Regions from separate parts of the Homo sapiens genome. Here region 2 is linked to region 1. The links come from fine-mapping of genetic effects on gene expression. A gene starts in region 1. The other region holds a variant in brackets. All regions are shown on one strand. Distances are between the middles of the regions. Region 1 holds the start of SF3A2 (splicing factor 3a subunit 2). Region 2 overlaps DOT1L (DOT1 like histone lysine methyltransferase).

Region 1 (11,738 bases):
AGAGAAACACACGCATCCGAGAACAAAGAGACTGATGGGTATCCCAGTAAGAGATCGCTGACACCCTCCTTCATTATCGGGGGAAGCCACTGCACCACAAACCCAGAACAGGAAGCTGAATGACAAGCTGAATTAAAACAAAAAGCCCTTGAAAAATACAGACAGGACGATCCAAACAAAAAATTCCATACCAGAGTTGGAAGCTGAGCCAAACAAATCTTTCATAAAGGAAAGTCAAAAGTTAAAAAAACAGGAGGAAAAGCAAGAACCTAGAGGACATTCCAGAGTGAGAACTGAAAAAACACCCAACAAAATAAAACAGGAAAAATATTATCACAGAAATAACATAAGAACATTAGCAAGAAAATTAAAAACAAAAACAAAACCCAGGACTAAAGGAACCAAACTGTCCAGATACCAAGCACCCACCAGGATCAGCAAATAAAAAGATCCCCGGTAAATGAGGAAATCAGGAAATTTTACGACACCAAGGAAGATGTTAAGCTTCTACTAGACAGAAAGACAACTGAGCAGAAAACATCAGAAACCAGCATAGGAACTGATCTTTTGAGAACAGCACTGAAAACAATGCTTTCACAGTTCTGAGCAAATACAGATTTTTTTCTCTCTCTTTTTTTTTTTTTTTTTTTGAGACGGATTCTCGCTCTGTCGCCCAGGCAGTAGCTCGATCTTGGCTCACTGCAACCTCCACCTCCCAGGTTCAAGCCATTCTCCTGCCTTAGCCTCCCGAGTAGCTGAGATTACAGGCACATGCCAAAACGCCTGGCAAATTTTTATATTTTTAGTGGAGATGGGATTTCGCCAGGTTGGCGAGGCTGGTCTCAAACTCCCAAACTCAGGTCATCCGCCCGCCTCAGCCTCCCAAAGTGCTGGGATTACAGGCGTGAGCCACCACGCCCGGCCTACAAATACAGATTTTCAATCTAGATTTTTATACCCCACCAAACTTCTAACTATGAGGGTAAATAAACTCGTTTTCAGACAATCAAGGACTTCCCCCACCCCCCGAAAAAAATCATCTGTTTCTTCAAAAGCTCCCAGAAGTTTTGCTCGGACAGCATGAAGGGAAAGAGATGACCACACTGGAAACAGAGGTCAGCACAGGGGAGCAAGGACAGGAAGGTTTGGGACAACAGCTCCACTTCCAGGTCAGAGCACAACCAGTCCCATTTGGAGGAGGAGGATAAGGGGGTCTTGGAGGGAAGTGGTGAGGGGAGATCAATTTATTTAAACCTATGCAAAATACAACTGATAGGTGTGTGAGAGGTGGGAGCTTTGTGGGGAAAAAACAAACAGCAGGTAAAAGAAAATCAGGCTCATGGTAAAAACAAAGTTAATTAGCTTTAAGGGAAGATAGAATGGTACAAGAAAAGCCTAGCTGAACATATTACTTGTTTTAGCAGCCAACAATATTTTGCATCTTATTTAGAAAACACAACCAATGACCAACTATGCTCATGACATAAACTCATTCAGGATATGGAAGGTGAAGGTGCAGTGGGTGGATGGGAGGGAGAAGATCTCAACAGCCGTGACAAGAAATCAGCAGATGATGTCTACAAATTGATAAATCCATGAAGAAATCTGTTACTTACTAAGGTAAAGATCAGGGGACAGCCTGGCCAACCTGGTAAAACCCCATCTCTACAAAAAATACAAAAATTAGCCGGGTGCAGTGGCTCATGCCTGTAATCCTACCACTTTGGGAGGCCGTGGCAGGTGGATCACCTGGTCAGGAGTTCGAGACCAGCCTGGGCAACATGGCGAAACCTCGTCTCTACAAAAAATACAAAAATTCGCCGGACATGGTGGTGAGCACCTGTGATCCCAGCTACTCGAGAGGTTGAGGCAGGAGGATGGCTTGAGCATGGGAGTTTGAGGCTGGAGTAAGCTGTGATTGCACCACTGCACTCACTCCAGCCTGGGTGACAGAGCAAGACCCTGTCTCAAAACAAACAAAAAACCGATGACGACCAGGGGAAATGAGCTTAAGAATTGAGGAAAAGTGGCCTCTGGGACCTGGGACTAGACCATTGAGAAGGAATTAGTTTTTCGTGGCAACACCGTTCTCTCCTTAACCTAGCCAACAACCTATTTTCCAGAGCTCCGCCTGGCTGTTTGGTGTCGTCCAAGGATACACAAGAACAACGGTCACAGCGGGGTGCACCTGCAAAATGGGGCCAGCTAACGTGTTCTGGTCGCCTTTGGCATGATGTTGAAGCCGTCACTCCCATTTTAAGGGAACTGAGGCTCACAGGAATTACATCACAGAGCCCCAGTCAACTAACAGGTATAGATGAGCATACAGAAGCGTTCTCGGCTACAAGGAAGGCGGCCGAAACCATTTCAGCCGCGATCCCGATTCGACCCCAACGAATCTTGGTTGTTTCTTTTTTATTTTGTCAAACAGGGTCTTGCTCTGTTGTCCAGGCTGGAGTGCAACGGCACAATCACAACTCACTGCAGCCTCGACCTCCTGGACTCAAGCGATCTTCCCGCTTCAGCCTCCAGAGTAGCTGGGACTACAGGCGCGCGTCACCAACCACGCCCGGCTAATTTTTTTTTTTTTTTTTTTTGCAGTGATGGGGTCTCGCTATGTTGCCCAGGCTGGAGTGCAGTGGTGGGATCATGGCTCACTGCAGCCTCGACATTCCGAGCTCAAGCGATCCTCTCGAGTAGCTGGGCCTACAGGTACAACCACCACTCCTGGCTAATTTTTTAAAATTTTTTGTAGAGATGGGGGTCTCGGTGTGTTGTCCAGGCTGGTCTCGAACTCCTGGCCTCAAGCGATCCTCCCGCCAAGGCCTCCCTGAGCAGTGAGATTACAGGCGTGAGGCCCCGCGCGCGGCCTCCCAACAGGAGTTTGGAAATAGAGTTCCTGGCGGGCCCGACCCTCCAGGCCCGCCCAGCGCGGGGCCTCAGGATGCACAAGGCCGGACGCTCACGGGAGGAGGGAGGGGAGCGACGCCGCCGCCCCACCCTCGGCCCGCGGCCTGTCGCAAGCGCCTCTCTCCTACGTCCGCTGTCCCCCAGGGAACCCCCGGTCCGCGTCGGCCGCCGCCCTCAACCGCCTCTACTCCTCACCAGAGCCCAAGGCCGCGTTATCTCCTCCTCGTTTCGCCACCTCCACGACTTCGTTTGGCGAACGGCGGGCAAAGAAAGCACTTCCGGGGCAAATGAGACGGGCCCTCTGGTGTGCGCATGCCTGGCCCGCCCAGCGGCGTGAGTCAGAGGGTCCCGAGGCGCGAAGGAAAAGGCTGGAGGGGGAGAGGCTGAAAGCGCGGCCTGGAAGGCAAACTGCGCGTGCGCACAACGCTCTCAACGAACCCTCGGTCCGCTGCGGCCGCACGGGGCCAACTTTCGCGAGGGAGCGGCTGACACTCTCCGGGCGACGTTATCGCTCCCTCCGCCTGCGCCTGGCCGCTCTAGAAAGGGGTGCCAGCCATCGCTGGGGTGCCTTGATTCTGTTCCACCTTGGTCCGGTTTATTTCAGTTTAATGGTTATGTAACAACGGTCCGTCTCTCCTACCAACCGGTACCCCGCCCACGCCAGCAGCCACGGGTCGCCAGCGCCACGCAGCGGAGGCGGGCGGCATGGCTGGCCCAAGGTGCGCAGGCGCACTAGCCCTGGGGGTGCTTCCGTGTCTGCGCCCTGAGACATTTTTGGCGCCGGCCCCAGCCTGAGCGGGGACGGCGGCCGGGAGGGCGCGGCCCGGGTTCCCGTTCCCCGCGGAGCCATGCGGTACAACGAGAAGGAGCTGCAGGCTCTGTCCCGGCAGCCGGCCGAGATGGCGGCCGAGCTGGGCATGAGGGGCCCCAAGAAGGGCAGCGGTGAGCGGGACCCGGGAGACCGAGACAGTGCCAGGGGCGGGAGGCCGGGGCCGGGGTCTGGGCGGGGGTGCCGGAGGCCGGAGTCCGGGTCGGGGCGCCGGGGACGGGAGGCCGGGGTCCGGGCGGGGGCTGCCTGCGCCCCTGAGTGCGCGCTGTGCCCGCAGTGCTGAAGCGGCGGCTGGTGAAGCTGGTGGTGAATTTCCTCTTCTACTTTCGGACAGACGAGGCCGAGGTAGGGGCGTCCCGGGCGCGCGGGCGGGTCCCAGGCTGGGCCCCTCGGAGGCCGGGTGCTCACTGCCCCGTCCCGGCGCCCGTGTCTCCTCCAGCCCGTCGGAGCCCTGCTGCTGGAGCGCTGCAGAGTCGTCCGGGAAGAGCCCGGCACCTTCTCCATCAGTGAGTGGGGCTAGGGAAGCCAGCGGCGCTTCCCGCAGCCCGGGGCACCCGCAGCGCCGCACTTTCCCCTCCCCGGGCGCCCAAGGTCTCCTCTGTGTCCCCAGCCTGGCGCCACCCTCCTCAAACACAAGAGTGCATTGTCCACGGGCAGCTCAAGGTCAAGTTCTCCTGGCGGGCACCACCCTTCCCACCTGCCGAGTCCACTTAAGCTTGGGTCCCTCCCAGACTCTGCTCTTTGTTCCCTGTGGGCCCAGGCTGTACTTACAGGGCAGGTGGGCCAGCCCCACCCAAAGCGTTTCCCCAGCTGCCAAGAGTAGCATGGGTCTAGCATTGTTATATGGCCCCGGGCTGGAAATCCCAGGTGGGGGTAGGAGGAGTGAGAGGGGGGTGTTCTCCTGGGTCTTAAGAGATTCCCTTCTGCGGGGAAAGATGGAGTCCCTGCTAGTTTGCCCAGAGTGGCTGTCAAAATTCCACAGGCCAGGTGGCTTAAATATCAGAAACATTCTCTACAGTTCTGGAGGCCAGAAATCCTAGATGAAGGTGTGGGTGGGGCCGAATCCTTCTGAGGCCGAGGGGAATCTCCCAGTTCCTAGTGGTGGCCAGTATCCTCCAGGTTCCTTGGCTTGTGGAAGCGTCACCTTGTCCTCCTTGCATCACGTCTGTGCCCACATTTCCCCTTCTACACAGACGCCAAGCAGAATTTAGGGCCCACCCTGACAACCCCTTTTTACTTCACTTTATTATTTTATTTGCTTATTTTTTGAGACAGGGTCTTGGTATGTCGCCCAGGCTGGAGTGCAGTGGTGCAATCTCGGCTCCCTGTAACTTCCCCCTCTCGGGTTCAAGTGATTCTCCTGCCTCAGCCTCCCGAGTAGCTGGTACTACAGGCACGCGCCACCATGCCCAGCTAATTTTTGTATTTTTAGTAGAGACGGGGTTTCGCCATATTGGCCAGGCTGCTCTCGAACTCCTGACCTCAGGTGATCCTCCCACCTCGGCCTCCCAAAGTGCTGGGATTACGGTCTTGAGCCACCGTACCCGGCCCTCTTTATTTTTGAGACAGGATCTTTTGTTTCCGAGGCTGGAGTGCAGTGGCGTGATCACAGCTCACTGCAGCCTCAACCCCCTTGGCTCAAGCAGTCCTCCCACTTCTGACTCCGGAGTGGCTGGGCCTACAAGGCCCCACCACCACACCTGGCTAATTTTTGTTTTTGTAGAGATGGGGATTTTGCCATGTCACCCAGGCTGGTCTCGAACTCCTGAGCTCAAGCAATCCTCCCACCTTGGCCTCTCAAAGCGCTGGGATTATAGGCATGAGCCACCGCACCTGGCGACAACCTCATTTTGACTAGTTTATATGCAAAGACCCTGTTTATATACAGGGCCATACTCATGGGTTCTGGGGGGTCAGGACATGAACACATCTTTGTGGGGGCCAGAGAAGGGACAGTTTATGGGCAATGGCAAGAGGAAGCTGCTTGTGGCTGTGGGTAGGACCGACCACAGGTGTTCCATCCCCAGGCTTCATTGAGGACCCTGAGAGGAAGTATCACTTTGAGTGCAGCAGCGAGGAGCAGTGTCAGGAGTGGATGGAGGCTCTGCGTCGGGCCAGGTGGGGCCAGGCGGTGGTGGGCACTGCTGGGGTGGGCACAGCAGCCATGCAGAGCGGGCATTTGACCCCGTGCCACCCTTTTCCCCAGCTACGAGTTCATGCGGAGAAGCCTCATCTTCTACAGGAACGAAATCCGGAAGGTGACGGGCAAGGTGTGTGCAGGGCTGCAGAGGGCCGGGGTGGGGCTGCAGGTGGCAGAGGCAGTCCTCCAGCCCTGGCTCATGGCCACCCGTCCTCCCCACAGGACCCCCTGGAACAGTTCGGCATATCCGAGGAGGCCAGGTTCCAGCTGAGTGGCTTGCAGGCGTGAGCGCAGGGCACGGTGGTCAGCGTGCAGCGGGACGGGACTGGCCCTGCCCAGCCATGAATCGCTTGGCCATGCCTGGATCTGTTTTGTTTTGGTTTTTGGTTTTTGGGTCAGGGTTTCACTGTGTTGCCCAGGCTAGAGTGCAGTGGTGCCACAGCTCACTGTGACCTTGACCTTCTGGACTCAAGTGATCCTCCTGCCTCAGCTTCCCAAGTAGCGGGGATCACAGGCATGAGCCGCCACACCCGGCCATCACACCTGGATTTTCAGTGGGAGGTTTTTGGTTTGGAGACATCCAAAGCCTGAAGCCAGGTGGGTGTGGGCAGGGGCTGCATTTTATGAAACTGCCCAGCAAGCTGCGCTCCCTGGGGCCCCAGGATCCACCTAACTGGCCTGGCACCTGGTGCCACGTGCTGCTGCCGCCAGGATATGCGCCTTCCCACAGGTGCCCTGCCTGAGTTGTGTGCATCCAGGGGCCTGGTGAGCCCCCAGGCTGGTGGCATGGCCCCCCTGCCCCGTGCTGAATGAATGTACAGAGCCAGACAAAGCTGTGAATGGCCTAGGGGCTGAGTCCCACACCAGCTGTGAATTCTCCTGCAGACAGGAGGGCCCTGGCTGTGCACCTGGGGAAGTGGTTGCCCTGGGGCCAGGGTGCTTGTTCTGTTCAAATAAAGGTACCTCTTTTCCACACTGGATGGCGGTGAAGTGAAGGAGAGGGGAGGGGCAGCCAGGGAGCCCCCACCCAAGGGAAGTAAGGCTCAGGGTCCTGAGAGGCAGTGGCTGGGCCTCCTGCACTGAGGGGAGAGCTAGAACCCCCAGCCAGGACAGGTGGAGGCTGGGACCCAGGCCTGGGGAGAACAGAGCTGCTGTGTGGTATCAGGAATCCTGTGGTGACCTGGGGTCCTGCCTCTGGCATTCACGGGCCCTCCCGGAGTGTGGCTGGGGCCTGGGCGGGCTTTGGTCCATCTGATGTGAAAAGGACTTTGCCGATGTCATTGGGGTCGCAGATCTGGTTTTCCGTTCATCAAAAGGCACTTTGCCTGTGGCCTGGTGCCCTCATAAGCCTCCCCTTGCCTGTGGCCTGGTGCCCTCATAAGCCTCCCCAAGGCCAGGGTGTCCTGGTGTCAGCCCCCGGAGCTTCTGCTAGGAGCACCCCTAGGCCCTCCACTCCCCGTTTCGGCGATGACACACTAGCCGGGGCCTCTCACTGGCCGCCAGGAGACGCCTCATGCCACCTGGAAGAAAGGCTGCCATTCACACCAGGTCCGAGTGAAAACAGTCTGTTTATTACAGCGTCTAGAGGTGGGGATGCAGAATGCAGGGGTGCCCAGAGGAAGGGGCGCCTGCAGCCCAGGGGCGGACCGTGACAATGCGCGCAATCCAAATACAGTTCACCCGGAAGACACGGCAGAGCCTCCCACGTTACAAAGGCTGACACAGACCAGCAGCGTGTTGTGTTGGGAGGGGGGTCTGACCACGATGGCGAGGGCAGTCGGCGGGGGGTGGGGGGCCTGCTGACCACTGAACAGACTGACGCATCCTGGGGGCAGATAAATTAAGGGGGAAGTCTTAAATAAGTCACTGTGCGTGCCTCATGGGCCGAGGAGGGGGTATCCTAGTTTTTAGGGTTCCTATCAATTCCTGAGCAAGAGCCACTCCCAGGCGCCGCCCGCCCACCCACAGTCAGCAGCAGCAGCACAGGTCCCCGCCAGCTGCCCACGGAAACTCAGGCCAGGTGCCAGCACCAGGCTCCAGATCCCCAGTCTCCACAGCCACCCTGCCACCCGCCACACACCACCCCTCAGTCTGGGAGTGTCTGAGAAGAACACAGGCCCAGGGCTCAGAACAGGAGGGTGTCCGCAGGCAGCCACCACACTAGTTCACGTGTGGTGACACGCATATGACCCAGTGGGCTCAAGGAGACTTCTGCCTGGGCCAGTGGCTCTGAGACCCAGTGCGTGTCCTGAACATACGGTGGCCTGCGTGGGCAGGAGCCCTGCATGGCCATCTGCAGGACCCGTGATGGCACCCGGACTGCCACTGTCACCTAGAGGGAGGCAGAAGTAATACAGTGTTTAAAGAATGTGTCTTGTTCTAGACCAGGGACTCGGCCGTCTCTGCCATCAACCCTGTGGCGTATCCGGCCCGTGGCGACACAGAGCAGGCTGCCTGTCCTGAAGGCCAGGCTCGGGGCTTGGGGCTCAGGCAGAGGCACAGCACCTTCTAGCTGAGAGCACCAACGTGGGGTGGGGAGGGCACTGGGCACCACTTAAGAGGACAGGTCCGGAGCACCATCTTCAGAACTCAGCTATGTTGGAGGGTGGGGGTCTGAGAGGTTGTTGGGGGCTGGGGGAGGCAGCACCCCCCTCACCAGGCACAAGCAGGGGTCTTCAGGCCCTCCCACACAGGACTCCCCCACCTAGCAACCACAGAAGCCTTTCCTCCGTGGCTCCCTTTGGAGGCCACGTGGTAGGGATGTGACGTGTGTCCATCCTGCCCTTGGGAACCAGAACACAGGGCTGGCAGCTCCCTGGAGGGTGGATCTGTGGCACCTTGGGGAAGGGGCTCCCCGATGCCATCTCACAGGAGCAAGCACTTGAGAAGGTGGGCTCAGCAAGTGCCACACAGCCCAGGGCCAGATGCGGGGAGCTCAGACTCCCAGATCCCATCCTCCAGGGAGGGCACAGAGCCACCACTGCTCAGACAACCCAGGCCCTGACTGCTCAGGGCTCCAGAAGCACTGGAGTGGCCCTGCCTGCCTGCTACACCCCGGCCTCAGCTCCTCTCCTTCCACACCCAGTCCCAGGCACCCGCCAAGGCTGCAGAGTGGGGGGCCGACGTCACCCTGGGGCCTAGGGCCAGAGAGGCCAGGTTTCAGCAGTGCACCCTGGCCCCAGCACACCCACAGCAGCTGGGAGAACCAGCACAGGCTCCAAGGGATGGGTGCCAGGCGTGGCCCTGACAGGAAGGGATGTGGGGCAGGCAGGGGCGCCGGCAGCTCTGTCTGGGCTGCTGGGAGCTGCAACTGAGGGGTCTAGGGTCGGGGCTGACGCTGGGGCCATTTTGTGCACTGTTTGAATAAATAAGGTTTTTTCCCCTCGCTTTTCTTTCCTCTTCACTGTGCATTATACCATCTAAAAATAAAAGCTGTCAAATCTATGAAATTTATAAATTCTCATCACATCTCTATAAAATACTGCCACTCATTAGTGTGACTCTCTCCTGTACAGAAACACCAAGGGACCCACGACAGGCCTGCCCCGCATCGCAGGGCATGCTGCGAGCCATGGACAGCCGAGAAATACAAAAGTAAATGCACTTGTTCAACGTGCCCGCGCCGTCCTCACAGCACCATCGCGCAGCACATGGCCAGCTGCGTCACCGCGCAGGCCCCTTCACATGCAAGGGCGCAACCCACGCCCCGGAGGGTGAACAGTCTGGGGGTTCACAGTGCCGGGGTAAAGGTGAAGAGCTCAGGGCAGGCGCCAGGGCGCTCAGGAAGGGGCTCAGGCCGCGGGGAGGCCTCCGAGGAATGTGGTGGCGACGGGCCTGCCTTTGGTACGGGAGCAGCGCGTCGGGGGAGCCGGCCGGGCGGCGTTTCCGAGAACGGGGTTCGGCGTTGTCAGCGTCTAGTCAGCACCAAGCGGGTGGAGGCAGGCGCGGGCCTGGGGACGAGATAGCACCGGGGCAGGCTGTGGCGAATCCGCTGGCGGGCCCGCCCTGCAGACACGTGTCTTTATATAGAGCTCTCATATATAGATATTTATATTTCTCAATAAGTTGCCTTTTACCACTTAGATGGAATAAAATAAGTCAGAATTGTTTATACTTTTTAAAAAATGATAAATACTTTATCTAAAACTATCGACAGTACAAACTGGACCAGTCCCAGCCTCCTGCGGCGCGTGCCGCCGATTCACAGTGGAGCTCCCGTCCGTCCTTGCCTCTGCCGTCCAGGGGTGGGAGCCCGGCAGGCCGGCGGGCACCATGCCGCGGGCGCGAGTTGGTCCACACCGTCCTTGCATAGGTCTCGCGGTTGAGGTAGAAATCCTAGTTACCTGCAGAAGGGCACAGCGGGAAGAGCGGCCTGAGGTTACCATCGCGCCTGGGGGAGCCCAACACTCACCCAGGCTGGGGACCGAGGCCTCCCACGAGCACACACGCCACCTGGGGCCAGCACCATGACAGGCATAGTGCCAGCTCCTCTAACCACAACAGACGACGGGCGTGCCCCGTGACAGACCAGGGAGCCTGACACCTGGACACGCCGGCCAAGCTCCAGCCTTCCTCCAAAGGAGACACACAGCCGAGTCCAGCTAAAGCCACCCTACCTGCAGCTCATCTCCTAAGAGACCCAGCATAGCTTGTCCAGCCCGCAGGTGCCCGCATTGACCCGCCAGGCTGACCAGCCCTGGCCACAGCCTCCGCCTTGGCTCCTGGCTCCCAGTCCTCCTCTCCTTGCCCGGTGGGCTTTGGACTCGCCCAGGAAGGCCTGTGTCCCAGGGGCCCCTGAGGCAGAAGGCCAGGGGCAAGCAGAGGGCACCTTTGCACTACGCCGCCAGGCACGCCATGTCCCTGGAGGGCACGGGTGGCCAACTGCCCTCAGGGGTCAGCGGCCACAGTCTCCACAGCCTCTTGGGGGAGGAGTGAACAGGACATTCCCTGAAGGCCTCACATCATCAAAATCACTCCTGCTTCCAACTTCCTTCTGGTCTCAAAGGTGGGCACCGTCTACACTAACCTGCCCAGCTTGGTGCTGACATCTGAGCAGCTGAAAGCCCCTCGGCTGTGGGCCATGACCACAGGGCAGTGTGGCCATCAGCCGTGTCCAGCAAGGGGGCCTCAACACGCAGGGCACAGAGCTTGCCTCTCGACCCCGCCGGGAACCCATCAGCCCCCAGGCAGGCAGGGCACTTGGGGCTTCACTGGCTCCCTATGAGGGCATCCGAGGCTACTGGCCAGACAGCCCCGACCAGAGGCATCCAGCCAGCCACCCTGGCTCTCCAGGACCTCTGCAGCCGGCACCGTGCCTGCTACATGCTGGGCGCCTGGGGAACAGCACCAAGCCACGCCACCCGTCATGAGTGACCTGGGCCTGGTGCGGATGGAGCCCTGGAGACTGCTCTAGGAGCTAGAGCTCCCAGCCCCCTGGCCTGGCACCCCGTGAGCCTCGCCCACAGGGGCTGGCACAGCTGCCCCCAGGGCTGGCCTCAGTCCTGCGGCGTCACCGCAGGAACCCAGCTGCGGGCAGCTGGAACCCAACACACTCAGGCCACTCCATGGCTGGTGCCCGTCCTGTAGTCCCTCCTCTCGCGACCATCTCCCTGGTCTCCCTGGCTCTCTCCCTCTTCCCTCCTCAGGACCCCCGGAACTTCTGCCGAGCCCTGTGGCCGTCTTCTCTGCCAAAGGAAGGACAGTTCAGTGTCTGGAGTGAGCCACCGCGCAGGGCTCTGGCCTTACCTTACACAATACGCACTGCTAGCTAAGCAAGGTCTTTATCGCGGCTTAACCCCCGAAAGGTGCGCGGCATAGGGAGGCGGCATGCCGAGGGACACCCACACCGCGGACGGCCCC
Region 2 (14,610 bases), 51 kb after region 1:
CCCCAACTCAGAGGGGTCCTAGGAGGCTCCACCTCCTGCCACGGGCCTCTCTCCCCACTGGCAAGACCACCAAAACCACACAGGCCACCAAGACCACCACCCCTCCTCTGGGCCAAGGCAGCAGGGTGGGGCGCTGACACCAAGGGACCCCCGTCAGGTGCCACGAGCCCCGTGAAAGCCCTGAGCCTACCACACCTCATCTGACTCGACTACGTGGGACCCCGCCTTCCTCCCCACCAGCTGCAGCAGGCTGAGGTGGTCCCCTCTCGCCCAGGCCAGCTCAGCTCTCAGGGGCCCACAGAGCTGCATGCATGAGGTTGAGGGGAAGCCAGAGCCGGGTGGCAGGCTGATGGGGCAGCCCAGCCCAGCCCAGTCCCACTCAGGAGGGCCAAGTGAGCCCATGCCACCCCCACCAGGGCTCCCTCCACAGCAAGACCTTCAAGAAAGAGCTCCCCTACCCCCATGCACCAGGGGCCCCCGGTGCTTTCTAGAACATGGGAAGCAGCACGTTCCCCTCCCTGCTACACCCCAGCTCACTGTGTGCCCCGTCCTCTGTGAGGAAAGCCTCACGAGACACAGCAGGACCGGGGTGCCCAAGGGTGCAGCCCAGGCCGGCATCCAGCCTGATGAAGGCAGGCGGTGTGGGGGAGGTCCAAGGGGGAAGGCCGGCATTCACACAGCCCGGGGAGGACAGGGACCCCGCCTCTGCTGGGACCTGCGGACACCAACCCAGGGCTGCAGAGGCGTGTGCAGACACCACAACCCTCAGGGCCCTGCCTCAGCACACAAACCACGGACGGCTCTGCTTTGGCACACGGCCACAGCACACAGCCCAGCCTCGGCAGCCCCCACACCACTCACCCACAGCCCATCGTCCCCCCACGCTGCACATTCCAATCCCCAGGGGCTCTAAGGGGAGCTCTGTGCCCCGAGGCGGTGACATAAGGGGTCTGGAGGGGTCCGGGAGCCTGGCACTACTAACCCCCTCTGGGCAGGGGCAAGCCACCTACCAGCTGGTGGATGCTGTCGATGGCACGGTTGTACTTGTCGCAGAGCCTCTGCATGCTCTCGAAGCTGAAAAAGGCAAGGGAAGGCCCTGGTCATGCGGGCAGGAGCCAGCCGCATGCATGGGAGGGGACAGCATGTGGATAAGGCAGGCTCCAAGGTGTGGTCCCTGCCTGGACAGCCACCAGCCAGCTGGCCAAGACCCTTCTGGCAGAAGCCTCGCTTTCCGCCCTGATGCAGGAGATTTCAGGTTTGACACACAAGCGAGGTGGCCGGCCGAGAGTCCGGTGCAGGGAAGCACTGAGCCCTGAGGCAGTCTGGACCTGCCCAGGCTCCCGCGCAAAGCCGAGGTCCACGTGTGCTGGAGGCGTGAGGAGAGAAAGAGGGCTCGAGGGGGACTGAGGCCAGCCCCCCAAGTGGGAAACCCTGGGGCCGGCCTTAGAGGGTCTTCCTTGCCCTGGCTGGGGACAGCCACCATCGCCAGAGGCAGGTGAACGGCTGGGGTCTCCCAGGGACCACCAGGCCTCTGCCCGGGCAGGTGCAGGAGGAGTGAGCACTGCAGAAAGGAAGATGCCTCACCCCCACCCACACTGCTCTGTGAGCGTGTCCTTCCAAAGCTCCAACTCATTCACACGTCAGCAGTGTGTCATGTCAGCAGTGTGTCACGTCAGCAGTGTGTCACGTCAGCAGTGTGTCATGTCAGACACGGCACAGCAGGGTCCACAGTGAGACTCAGTCCCCCCGCAGCAACTCTGCCCTCCTTGCCCTGGCCGCAAGGCAAACCCTCATTACCTAAGTGCCCACAACCCAACAGCATCGGGGCAGAGCCCACCAGAGGGCAGGGGGCACCTGTGCTCCAGGGAGTGCCCACTGTCTGTGGGGCACGTGAGCCACAAGAAACACCGGCCACGCGGCCCAGCCAGGCCTGGGCTCAGAGGGGCTTCCGGGGTGGGGGCAAGCCTGCTACGGGGTCTGCCTGGCCTAGTCTGTCCAGTCTCCACCTGGGATAACTTGCTCATCTTCCAAGTCTGTTGGACCCACTGGCAAAATGTGGACAACAGCGTCTGTCCCTCCACCTCAGAAGGTGTCCAGAGCAGAGCAAGAGACAGGAGGAGGAGGCGTACCTGTCCAGTGAACACTGTCACACACAGTGGCTCTCACCGGGGACCCCAGGAATGTGGCGAGGCAAGCAAGAGATGGAGGCAGGGACCCTGCTCGGCACCCTGCAGTGCCCAGGACGGCCCCTCCCAGAGAACAATCCGACTTCCACATCCCCAGCGCCGAGGGGGCCTGCACCTGTGCGGGTGGGGGGGGGGGGGGCGGCGGCTGGGGACTCTTTCCTCCGCCTCCGTCCTCCGCCACCTCCACGTGCACGCAAGCAGTTTCCTCCCAATGGCAACCCCAAGAGCCTGGCAGATGCTCCGAGACGTGGCTAAACAATCACACCCCTGCTCCCACCCCAGCCCCAGCCCCATGCTCTTCCTGCCCTGCCCTGGCCACCCTGAATTCACCTGGGCACTGCATGTGCCGAGGTTCACACTTCCCCTTCCTCATAGGAAAACCAGTGCTCCACAGGCCAAGTTCATGTTTTCCTTAACCAGCAGCTGCATAGGATAAAGCAAGAGAACTTAAGAGGAGCAAACACCAAGAACAAGAGCCTGCCGACAGCCCCGGGAGCACGGCCACACAGGACCTGGATCCTCCGGAGGACGAAGGACACGGGGGTGGAAGGAGCCCAGGTGGTGCAGAGGGCCAGCAGGCACCATGCGGGCCGGAGGAACCCACAGAGCCGGCCTGCTGCCTCCCGCCTTCCCCGCAGCTCCAGAGGAGCAGCCCTGGCCCTTCCTGTCTTTTCACTTCCCTTTTTTTTTTTTTTTCTGAGATGGAGTCTCGCTCTGTCACCCAGGCTGGAGTGCGGTGGCGCGATCTCAGCTCACTGCAAGCTCCGCCTCCCGGGTTCACACCATTCTCCTGCCTCAGCCTCCTGACTAACTGGGACTACAGGCACCCGCCACCACGCCCGGCTAATTTTTTGTATTTTTAGTAGAGACGGGGTTTCACTGTGCTAGCGAGGATGGTCTCGATCTCCTGACCTCGTGATCCATCCGCCTCGGCCTCCCAAAGTGCTGGGATTACAGGTGTGAGCCACGGTGCCCAGCCCCTGTGTTTCCACTTCTACACGCCGCCTTCAACCCTGACAACCAGACCTTCCCAAAATCACCTCTGCACGCTCCTGGGAAGAGACTCTTCCCTGGCAGGCTGTGCAAATGCAGGTGCTCAGAGGAGCTGGGGCTGTCCTTGGTCTGAAGCCCTAATGGCTCGGTCCCTCAGGTGGCCCTGCCAGCTCCAACGAAGACCCCCTGCCCAGCCTGTCCCTGATGTCCTTCCAGCCTTGGCTAAGCCCATCCCACGCGAAGAGGAAGGACGCCACACACCCACGTGGAGGGGCGCCGTGAGCACAGCGTCTGACACGCTCGCTGCTCAGAGCCAAGGCAGAAGCTGGCCACACACAAGTGAGGTGCCATAACTGCCCCAGGTTAATGTGAAAGGGCTCAGCCCGACAACACCCACTCATCCGAGGGGACTCTAGTTCCTAACAAAGCTCCTGATCCCTGGGAACTTCTAGGTGACAGGAGTGTCTTCTGTTGTAAGGAAGCGACTTGTGGGGGGCTCCTGGGTGAGGTAAAGCCCAAGCTGCGGTAAGAAGCTTAGAAAGAGGGGACTGGAGATGGAGGCAATCATCAAGCAAGTCTCCGAGAAGCCTCCGTGAAAACCCGAAAGCACAGGGTGCAGAGCTTTGGGGTTAGTGCTCCCCAACTCCACGGACACAGAGCTCTGTGCAGGGCCCTGCAGGCCCCTCCCTGTGGACCCTGCCATGCGGCTGTTGATCTGCACGCTGCATCACACTCTTCATACTAAACCAGGGAAGGGCCCAGCACACCATCACGCCCAATGAGGGGGGGTGGCGAGAGGCCCCGACATGCGAGGCAGGTGGCGTGAAATCCACAGCAGCAGGTCGGCACGCAGGACCCTGCCAGCAACACGCTTGTCTGCCTGTGGGGCACCAGGGTGCTGACCAGGGAATGGGCAGGGCTCGAGGGAGGGGCACAGGATCTCGAGGTTTACTGAGGCTGAGACCGCTGACCCCAGACAAGAGTCCCTCCCACATGCCAGTGAGGCCGGAGAGCCAGGTAAAGTGCAGCCGCGTGGCCCTCTGGGCTTGACTCTCTGTGGAGAGGGGCTCACCTAAGCTCACGACAGCACAGCCCTTGATGGAGGACTACTCTGTTGATTTCAGACTCAAGAGCTGAAAAAGGCATGAGCCTGGAATGTCTTCCTTGTCAAAGAAAAACAAAACACTTCCAAGCAAGCATTCCAGAGACAGCCCTGCCCCTCTCCACCCACAAGACCCTCCTCCGAGACCCAGGAGCTGCCAGGGCGAAATTGCTAACGCAGCCACAGGGCTGGAGACAGAGGGACTAACCAAACCCAGCTGAGATCTAAACAGAGCTGCCAAGCAGCCTAAGGCCGCCCAGGCCCTCCCAGCAGCCTCAGGCAGGAACGCGGACTTCTGGCCGTCAGCCGCCCGCTATAAAAAGAGCGATCACTAGCGCGGGCTGACTCCACACATGCCAATCCCACTTTCCACAACCGGAGTTTCCAATTCTGTCCGGCCTCTGACAGCCTTTGCCAAGAGTTGATAAACATTTCCTACCAAAATAACTTTATGGTGGCCACGGCCAACTCTAAAAGGAAATTTCAGATCAGCTTGCACCATCTAAGAAGAGCTAATTATAGGATGCGTCCTCCTGTCCTCCCCAAGAGCCGAGTCTGTCCTCGGAGCGGAGCGGCTGGACAGGACTCTGCTTACCTTTTGGTGTCATAGTCAATTAAAACGTAATTCTCCATAGCGAGCTTGAGATCCGGGATTTCTTCACAGACCCATCTGAAACACAGCAGCAGAAACGATCAGGAAGGGTTTGGTTTTTTTTGTTTTGTTTTGTGTTTTGTTTTTGTTTTTGTTTTTGTTTTGAGACGGAGTCTCACTCTGTTGCCCAGGCTGGAGTGCAGTGTCGTGATCTTGGCTCACTGCAAGCTCCGCCTCCTGGGTTCAAGCGATTCTCCTGCCTCAGCCTCCCAAGTAGCTGGGACTACAGGTGCCCACCACCACGCCTGGCTAATTTTTGTATTTTTAGTAGAGACCGGGTTAGGCCATTTTGGCAAGGCTGGTCTCAAACTCCTGACCTGAAGTGATCCGCCCACTTCAGCCTCCCACAGTGCTGGGATGACAGGTGTAAACAATCTTGAGTATTACCCCGCATGTTCTTAAACACTGCATCCTCTCCAACAGAAAACAAACATCCTTACCCCTCCACTCAAAGTGGAGAGAGAAGGGAGGCGTGACTTCAAAACGAAGGCTACGATGTTTACCACGAAGCTGTTACTGAATCACACAGGTATTACGTGGCTTCGAGGCCACACACCAGTGGCTCTGGGGACCTAAGTGAACTTATCTGCTACAGGGCTGGTCTAGGGACCCACTGGCCACATCAGAGCTCGAAAAGCAACTGACTGACTAGAAACTAAAGCCAACTGGTGCCGGGTGCGGTGGCTCACACCTGTAATCCCAGCACTCTGGGAGGCCGAGGTGGGCAGATCACGAGGTCAGGAGTTGGAGACCAGCCTGACCAACATGGAGAAACCCCGTCTCTACTAAAAATACAAAATACAAAAACACACTGGTGAATTCCATCAAACACTGACAAGACAAACACTAAACCTACAGAAACTTTCTCAGAGTTTTATGCAGCCAGCGTCATCTTGACACCAAAACCATAGAGACGCAAAGGGCTGGAAAGAAAGGACAAGAAAGGCAACAGCTGACCAACATCCCTGACCAACACACCCCACTATCCCTTAAAAACGTGAGGAAACCGCAGCGGCACCTCACAACCACACACAGCACCTCCTGGGGAGGAAAAGCTGCTTCACTCTAAAATTAGTCACTGCAATTCACCGAAGGAACAAGGACGGAGATCTGAGCAGCCCCGTGTGGGCGAGTACGGAAAGCCCACAGGACGGCATTCGGTGCCATCAGGACGGTACCCTCCAAGAGGCCAGAAATGGAAGGACACGCCTTCCGCTTGGAAAGGGCACGGGACCAGTCACTGAGCCGCTGTGACAGCAGCAGGCCCACCTTCCGCAGCCACCTGGCCTGCGGCTCTGCAGGAGGGGTCAGGGAGGGATGGGGGTTCGGCCTCTGCTCCCCAGTCCTCTTGACCTGCTAAGTCCAGCGGGCAGCTTCCCAGAACTCCGAGAGTAGCTTCATTGCCCCCTACCCCACGCCAAGTCCCCAGACTCCCCAACCAGCTGGCCAGGACCTGACCTCAGG[T/G]CCGGGTGCCCTCCAAGACCCTTCCACACTGAAAGACACAGCATCCTGTCAGAAGGGCTGTGGCATCCGCCCTCTGTGATTATTGGTGCCTCTCGTCACCCGTCCCCAGCATGGTCAACGCCTGCACACCTGGCCAACACCGGCAGGGGACCTCACAATGCAGATCATCAAAAGCCCCAGGCACCGAGCGAGGCCCCGAGAGCAACCCAAGCAAGGCCATCTGCAGTCACTTCTCATCACACTGTCCAGGAGGTTCCGGCCAGCGCAACTCGGCAAGAAAAACACTCAAAGCAGCAAGGAGCCTGAAAGGAGCGGCCGCACGGTCTTCACTCAGTCCCGTGGTTCTGCGCCACAGAGCGTGCTGAGGAATACGCGCGGACACCGCCAGAGCTCAGCAGGGGCATGGCCGATAGGCAAAAGGGAGCAGTCTTTACACATACTAGCAGCAAAGGATTGTCAAAATGCCACATAAAAAAGCACCAAAGGCCGGGCGTGGTGGCTCATGCCTATAATCCCAGTGCTTTGGGAGGCCGAGGCAGGCGGATCACGAGGTCAGGAGTTCGAGACCAGCCTGATCAACATGGTGAAACCCTGTCTCTACTAAAAACACAAAAATTTGCTGGGCATGGTGACGGGCGCCTCTAATCCCAGCTACTCGGGAGGCTGAGGAAGAAGAATCACTTGAACCCCGGAGACGGAGGCTGCAGGGAGCCGAGGATGCGCCACCACACTCCAGCCCGGGCAACAGAGTGAGACTCCGCCTTAAAAAAAAAAAAAAGCACTGAAGCAGGAATACCTGGGAGTGACACTGTTTAAACGCCCCTTTCCCCAAGCTGAACTGCAGGCTCAAACCAATTTCTAGAAAAAGCCCAGCTAGCTTTTCTGGAGAAATGGAAAGGCTGATTCTCAACGGACATCCAAACGAGGAGAGCCTAGGACAGCCCAATCATCTTTAAACAACAGCCCTCCCCACACTTCGGGAGGCCGAGGCGGGTGGATCACTTGAGGCCAGGAGTTTGAGACCAGCCTGGCCAAGGTGGCAAAACCTCGCCTCTACTAAAAATACAAAAATTAGCTGGGCGTGGTTGCAGGCACCTGTAATCCCTGCTACTCGGGAGGCTGAGGCAGGAGAATTGCTTGAACCTGGGAGGTGGAAGTTGCAGTGAGCTGAGATGGCACCACTGCACCCCAGCCTGAGCAGCAGAGCCAGACGCTGACTCAAAAAAACAACACCACTGTGGGAGGACGTGCTTGGGACACTGGCCGTATGGGGACTGAATGGTGTTTGCTGTGTAAGAACGTCGTCGGTGTTTCTAGAGGAAGTGAGACAGAAAAGGTCTGTGCAGCCACACCGTGAGAACCCTGGCCACATGCTGGGGATGCACGGGAGAAAGCAGCCTCTCCAGGTGGTGGGGGTTCGAGTTTCGAGGTCTCTGCCTACGTCGCGGATGCCCAGGTGTTGGTGCACGCCCCTGTGCCTGGACCCTGCTCCCTACAACGCTTAAGCTCCAGACTCCAGATGCGCTCCCCAGAAAACACACAAGGTTCAAACAAGACAGTCAGCTCCGAGCCCTGCAGAAGGCGAGCATGCAGCCAGAGAGGCACTCTCACCGCCACTGCCTGAGATCCGGGGGCCTGGGGTCTCCTCTGACCCCAGAAGTCTGTGCAGGCCCCTTCCCATGGGGAGCAGGTGCAGCTCCCCTGCTGCTGAGCACCTCCAGACACACTAGCAAGCGCCTGGTCAGAGAGGGGCTTCCACCCCTGCTGCACCGAGATCCTAACCCAGAGAGACCACGTCTGGGCAGCACTGGCAGAACCTGCACAGTCACAGCCCCGGGAAGCCACAGCCCTGGAGCACTCTTTCTTGTTTGGGTTTTGTTTCTTGAGACAGGGTCTCACTCTGTTGCCTGGCTGGAGGGCGGTGGCACAATCACAGCGCCACTGGTCTCAAGTGATCCTCCCACCTCAGCCCCGCAAGTAGCTGGGACCACAGGTGTGCACCACCATGCCCAGCTAATTTTTTACTTTTTTGTAGACTTGGGGTCTCATTATGTTGCCCGGCCAATCTCCAGCTCCTGGATTCAAGTGATCAACCCTCCCAGCCTCTCAAAGCACTGGGATTCCAGGTGTGAGCCACCATGCCCAGCTGAGCATTATTTATTTATTTATTTATTTATTTTTGAGATGGAGTCTCACTCTTATCACCCAGGCTGCAGTGCAGTGGCACCATCTTGGGTCACTGCAACCTCCGCCCCCTGGGTTCAAGCTATTCTCCTGCCTCAGCCTCCAAAGTAGCTGGGACTATAGGCACCTGCTACCTCACCCGGCTAATTTTTGTGTTTTTTTTTAGTAGAGACAGGGTTTCCCCAAGGTGCCCAGGCCAGTCTCGAACTCCTGGCCTCAAGCGATCTCCCTGCCTTGGCCTTCCAAAGCGCTGGGATTATAGGCGTGAGCCACCGTGCACAGCTTGAGCATTCTTAAAAAGACTGCCCGGCCCTCTGTGAGGAGCACCCACAGAGGCCCACGCCAGCAGAGTCTTGGCCCCCAGCTGCAACAAGAGAAACCCAGGCAGAGAGAGGCGGCTGGCCGCCAGAAGCATGCTGCAGCTGGGCTGGGGCTGGGGCTGGGGCTGGGGCTGGGGCTGGTGCTGGGCGGGGGCTGGGCTGGGGTCCAGCTGCCTGATCCAGAGCCCTCCCTCCAACCATAACACCAGACTTCTTTTACAAAGAACAGAGGGGCCCCTACTCCACTGCCTGGTCCACGGATCATGACATTAAAAAAAAGCAGATCCCACATTCTAAGCACGGACCCTGGGTCAGGCCCACCCTGGCCGACCTACACAAACGATTTCACTTAATCCTCAAACAACCTGGCCAGGGAGGTGCCGCTGGGCCCCAACACTGAACTACAGGGCCTCAGGAGCTAGGGGCCTGGCACAGAGCCACCCGGCCAAGAGGAGCTCAGCATGGCCCTTATGGCAGCTGCAGGCCTGGGCAGATGCTGGGCATGGGCACGGGCGGTGTCCTCACAGCCCAGTATGCTAAGGAACAGACCAGCAAGACGCCAGGGCCACATGGACACATGTGGCCTCCGTGCAGGTGCCACACAATGAGGGTTCTGACCCTGAGCACCTGAGACACGCAGAATGCCGGCCACCATGGGCAGCTTCCCAGTGGGCAGCAGAGAGGCACCCAGAGGGCCTCCCTGCACTGTTGCTGCAGATCCTGGAGCCCAGGCTGGAGCTTACGAGGACAGGACGGCCTCCGCCTCCTGCCCATCCAAGTCACCCCCAGAATGCTCCTCTCTGCACCCATGGGGCACAGACACAGGAGGCCGTCGAGGGCGCGTGAGGGTGAAGGTCGGCCCAAAACCCACAGCAGGGAGACTGACAAGGAGACAGAGGAAGGCAGGGCAACGCCCCTGGAGGACCCACTGGACACCCCAGCAGCTCAAGACTTCTGCACCCACTGGCCAGGAATGGAGCTGGGAGAAGCAGCTCTACCCGTCCCTGAGTCACCCCTGATCCGCTTCACAACACCTCCAGGAGTCCACCCCTGCAGGAGCCATCCCCACAACAGAATCTGCAGGGCACGGGTGTCCACGGAAGTGGCTCAGGGCTGTGAAGACAACACACTGCAGGCCGTGCACTCACCGGATGGTCTCGATGATTTCATGAGCAGCATCGTGATGTTTATCCTGAAACAGAGAGAGAAGTTTGAGACGCAGAGCCATCCTCCACCCCGTGAGCCCATCGCTCTCTTCCCGGACAAGCGATGCCGTCAACTTCCCATCTCTTCATTTCCCAACTGGTGCAGCTCCCAAGCCCACCACCCAGCGGGTACCACCAGAGACACTCCCAGACCCTGGACCACGAAGGGAACACAGACCTTGCCGGGGACCTATTCTGGCACGCTGTGTCCTACTACAGGCAGCGAGCAGGCAGCGGCCTGGGATGGAGTCTATGGCCCCCGGTCCTGCTCCTCTCCCACCCTAAAGCAAACGGCCGCCCCAAGCTCCGCTCCACATGTCTCCCCATTTTTTCCCTGGAGGTCAGTTGATCCCTCAACACAGCCCAAGTCCCTCAGACCGCGCTCCGCAGGCCCACCGGGAATTCTCCCGACGCTGCTCCAGCCAGGGAGCTCCAGCCTGGCTGGGAGTCCTGCGTTGGCAAAGGCCTGGTATGTGACCGCAGGTGATAGAGCCTCCACGGGGCCTGTTTCCCCAACTGTACCATGGGAAAAAAACCACTGGGCTAGCCCACGTGGGCGGCCTCGCCATAGCCCAGAACCTGCCACAACTAAAACCAAGGTCCTTGGCCTAACACAGATCCCTCCCCGTCCAGCACCCTGCCCTTCGCTCCCTCTACAAGGCCAATGTCAAAGGCAGGTTCACACCCAGCAGGGCCACCCAAGCCTCTCCGACTCCACACCCATCACCGAGAATCAGAGACCAAGTGCACGCCACCAGGACACGTGCACTTTCGTCGCGTCTGCGTGCTACTGTGCTGATATAAACCCACAACAGGCTGGGTGCAGGGAGCGAATCACTTGAGCCAGGAGTTCGAGGCCAGCCTGGGAAACAGCGAGAGCCCATGTCTTTTTTCTGTTTGTTTGTTTGTTTGTCGCCCAGGCTGGAGTGAAGTGGTGCAATCTCGGCTCACTGCAACCTCCACCTCCCAGGTTCAAGGGATTCTCCTGCCTCAGCCTCCCGAGTAGCTGGGATTACTGGCATGAGCCACCACGCCTGGCTAACTTTGTATTTTTGGTAGAGACAGGGTTTCTCCATGTTGATCAGGCTGGTCTCGAAATCCTTACCTCAGGTGATCCGCCCACCTCAGCCTCCCAAAGTATTGGGATTACAGGCCTGAGCCACCGTGCCCAGCCAGCCCATGTCTTTTTTATAAAAATGAACAATTTTTTTTTAAATCCCCAATAGGTAAACGCCAAAGCAATAAGAGTTGCAGACGCGATCCCCTGGATGCTGCAGTCCACAGGGCGCGTCAGAGGCCGCCCAGGCAGCCGTGCAGCCTCAGCGAGCCTCTCCCAGGCAGCCGTGCAGCCTCAGCGAGCCTCTCCCAGGGCAGAGAAAAAGCAACCAGCAGGGCACCTGTGGACACCACCTGACGAAACACAAGGCCAGCGTCATCACAGTGAGACACGCAGCCGCCACGAGCCTCCCAAGGCCCAGCGGGACGCAACCCCATCTGTGGGGCTCCTGCCAGGATGCAGAACCTCAGTATAACCCTGAGAGAAGCAGCCAAGCCTGACTGAGGGGTGCCACACAGAGACCCCAGCTGGCTCTCCTCCAAAGGCCAGACCATAGGAGACCCCCCCCCAGCTTTCCTTATGCACTGAGGGATCAGCCTAGATAGGGGAGACAGGAGACACAAGGGCTCATGGCAATGATGGGATGGGACGTATATGCCACTGAGGCCACAGCTCCGTCCACCTCCTGGTTCGGATCAGGGTACTGTGATGAAATAAAGCCACATAGAAAGTCTGTGCGGTGCTTTGCAACTTTCTTCTAAGTCTAAAACCACTTTAGGGGTTGGCGTGGTGGCTCACACCTGGAATCCCAGCGCTTTGGGAAGCTGAGGCAGGTGGATCACGAGGTCAGGAGATAGAGACCATCCTGGCTAACAAGGTGAAACCCCGTCTCTACTAAAAATAGAAAAAATTAGCTGGGCGTGGCCGGGCGCGGTAGCTCACACCTGTAATCCCAGCACTCTGGGAGGCCAGCTGAGGCGGGTGGATCACAAGGTCAGGAGATCAAGACCATCCTGGCTAACACAATGAAACCCCATCTCTACTAAAAAATACAAAAAGTTAGCCAGGCGTAGTGACGGGTGCCTGTAGTCCAGCTACTCGGGAGGCAGAGGCAGGAGAATGGCGTGAACCCGGGAAGCGGAGCTTGCAGTGAGCCAAGATCGCGCCACTGCACTCCAGCCTGGGCAAAAGAGCAAGACTCCGTCTCAAAAAAAAAAAAAAAAAAAATTTCAAAGTGAAGTGTGTTTTGGAGATTTTTTGTTTTTTTTTTTTTTCTGGTAGAGACAAGGTTTCACCATGTTGGCCAGGCTGGTCTCAAACTCCTGGCCTCAAGTGAGCTGTCTGCCTTGGCCTCCCAAAGACATGGTGAAACGCCATCTCTACAAAAAAATACCAAAAAAAAAAAAAAAATGGCCAGGCATGGTGGTTCACACCTGTAATCCCAGCACTTTGGGAGGCCGAGGCGGGTGGATCACTCGAGGTCAGGAGTTCAAGACCAGCCTGGCTAACACAGTGAAACCCCATCTCTATGAAAAATACAAAAAAAAAAAAAATTAGCTGGGCATGGTGGTGCGTGCCTGTAATCCCAGCTACTCAGGAGGCTGAGCCAGGAGATTCACTTGAACTCAGGAGGCAGAGGTTGCAGTGAGCTGAGACTGCACCACTGCACTCCAGCCTGGGATACAGAGTGAGAATCCATCTCAAAAAAAAAAAAAATTGCTAGGTGTGGTGGCACACACCTGTAATCCAAGATACTCAGTGGCTGAGGCAGGAGAATCTCTTGAACCCAGGAAGCAGAGCTTGCAGTGAGCCAAGGTCGCACCACTGCACTCCAATCTGGGCAGCAGAGTGAGATTCCAGCTCAAAAAAAAAAAGGAAAAAGAAATAGGAGGAGGCAAGAGCCGGGGCTGGGCAGAGCGGAGAGCAGGGCTGGCGAGGGTTGGCGAGGGAGCAGGCAGAACTTGCAGGCCCCGGACAAAGTGAAAATAGGGTCCCTTGCTCAAAGGTGGCTAAAGAACTTCAACACGAGCTGGGCGCAGATCATGAGGTCAGGAATTCGAGGCCAGCCTGGCCAACGTGGCGAATACTAATAACACAAATATTAGCTCTATCACTAGTAATACAAAAATTATTACCACTAATAATATAAAAATTGTTAGTAGTACTAATAATACAAAAATTAGCTGGGTGTGGTGGCGGGTGCCTGTAATTCCAGCTACTAGGGAGGCTGAGAGAGGAGACTTGCTTGAACCCGGGAGGCAGAGGTTACAGTGAGCCGAGATCGCGGCATTGCACTCCAGCCTGGGCGACAAGAGCAAAACTTTTTCTCCCAAAAAAAAAAAATTGTTCCTGCGTGATTTGACTGCGTGTGTGGGGCGAGTGCAGCACACCTGGTCGTTTCCTGTATGTTCTGTGCTCTGCACAGCTCCTTCCCGCCAGCCACATGTCGGGTGCCCACAGCCGAGTGGCTAGTGGCTGCCGTCAGGACAGTGCCGCTCCACAGAGCTCCCCCTCACGGGGGAGTCTTCTTCCTGCGGACCCCCACAGACTGCTGCGGGATGTTGCAGGGTGCAGCCGGAAGCACTGGGTTCTACGCATCTGAAGCGAGACCCAGAGGGCCAGCCTGCTCTCTGGATAGGGGCTGGGGGCGGGAGGAAGGGGTGCTGGGCCTGCTCCCTCATATCGGGGTCCTGCTTCTGTGAGACCCCTTTCCTCCTGCTCACTGTCAGGGCCCACGGCAGGGTTCCCCTCTCCCTCCTCAAGCTGGAATTCCAGCCTGCTGTGGTCCCAGAAGTTCCTGTCTGTCCATAGCGTCTTCCCCAGTGATCATCTGACAGAGGGCCCTGCCTCGCCTGGTTTCAGAGTTTTCTTGTCACAGGGAGTCGCTGTCTCAAAGTGGTGGCCGCGGGAGCTGCATGTCTGGCTGGCAGTGTTTGCAGCTGTGGTTTGAGTGTCCTGAGGCTGCGCAGGTTGGAGGGGGCTGTCGGCCCAAGTCCCCCTTCCTAGGATTCAGCCAAGCGCTTCTCACAGGCGCAGGCCTTACTGGAACAGAGAATGTTCCTGGGAGCCAGATGACTCACAGGTGTGAGGGCTGGAAATGCTCTGATTGACAGCGGTGTCACCTGCCCTTGCCTGCTCTCCTTGGCAGCGTGACATTATTTTGGGGGCCACGTAAGTGTACTTCTAAAAATGAGTGCCCCGCAGAAGCAGTAGCAGGGTGAACTCGCTCTGCAACTCCCGCGAGCCGTGCCCTCTGCCCCACGCCTGTTTCGTCCTTGTGCCTCATTCCCTGTCATTCACAGCTAGGGAGACAGTGTCCCCACCAGGCAGTGCACCCCGAGTTACTGCCCCTGTCCCCTCTTGCTCGCACTGCCTCCTGTCCAGAGGTGCCTTGTGGTGTGGGATGCTGTGTGGACCGAGGGCTGGGGGACAGGGCTTTGTGCAGAC

Evidence for each region.
Region 2: its variant is fine-mapped to the expression of SF3A2 in visceral fat (GTEx, PIP 0.99).

Annotation. Positions count from the first base shown.
Region 1 is chr19:2,228,269-2,240,006 of GRCh38, reverse strand. SF3A2 (splicing factor 3a subunit 2) reads right to left here and starts at 3,183. Exons shown (of 9, transcript NM_007165.5): 1 at 3,106-3,183. It overlaps DOT1L (DOT1 like histone lysine methyltransferase), which reads right to left. Exons shown (of 28, transcript NM_032482.3): 28 at 7,429-10,222. The coding sequence ends at 10,215. PLEKHJ1 (pleckstrin homology domain containing J1) reads left to right here and starts at 3,678. Exons shown (of 6, transcript NM_018049.3): 1 at 3,678-3,852; 2 at 4,017-4,084; 3 at 4,179-4,245; 4 at 5,767-5,857; 5 at 5,946-6,009; 6 at 6,102-6,854. The coding sequence starts at 3,759. The coding sequence ends at 6,167. It overlaps MIR1227 (microRNA 1227), which reads left to right and starts at 5,858; the gene lies at 5,858-5,945. It also overlaps MIR6789. RefSeq lists enhancers at 1-275, 3,418-3,467, 3,046-3,654, 4,263-4,871, 4,874-5,453 and silencers at 2,898-2,997, 3,608-4,237.
Region 2 is chr19:2,176,196-2,190,805 of GRCh38, reverse strand. DOT1L (DOT1 like histone lysine methyltransferase) reads right to left here. Exons shown (of 28, transcript NM_032482.3): 2 at 10,050-10,093; 3 at 4,877-4,951; 4 at 1,011-1,074. Among named protein-coding and RNA genes, the nearest start is that of DOT1L, 20 kb to the right of the region's middle. RefSeq lists enhancers at 7,621-7,710, 7,901-8,060, 9,533-10,116. The variant T/G (reference allele first, on the strand shown) is at 6,398.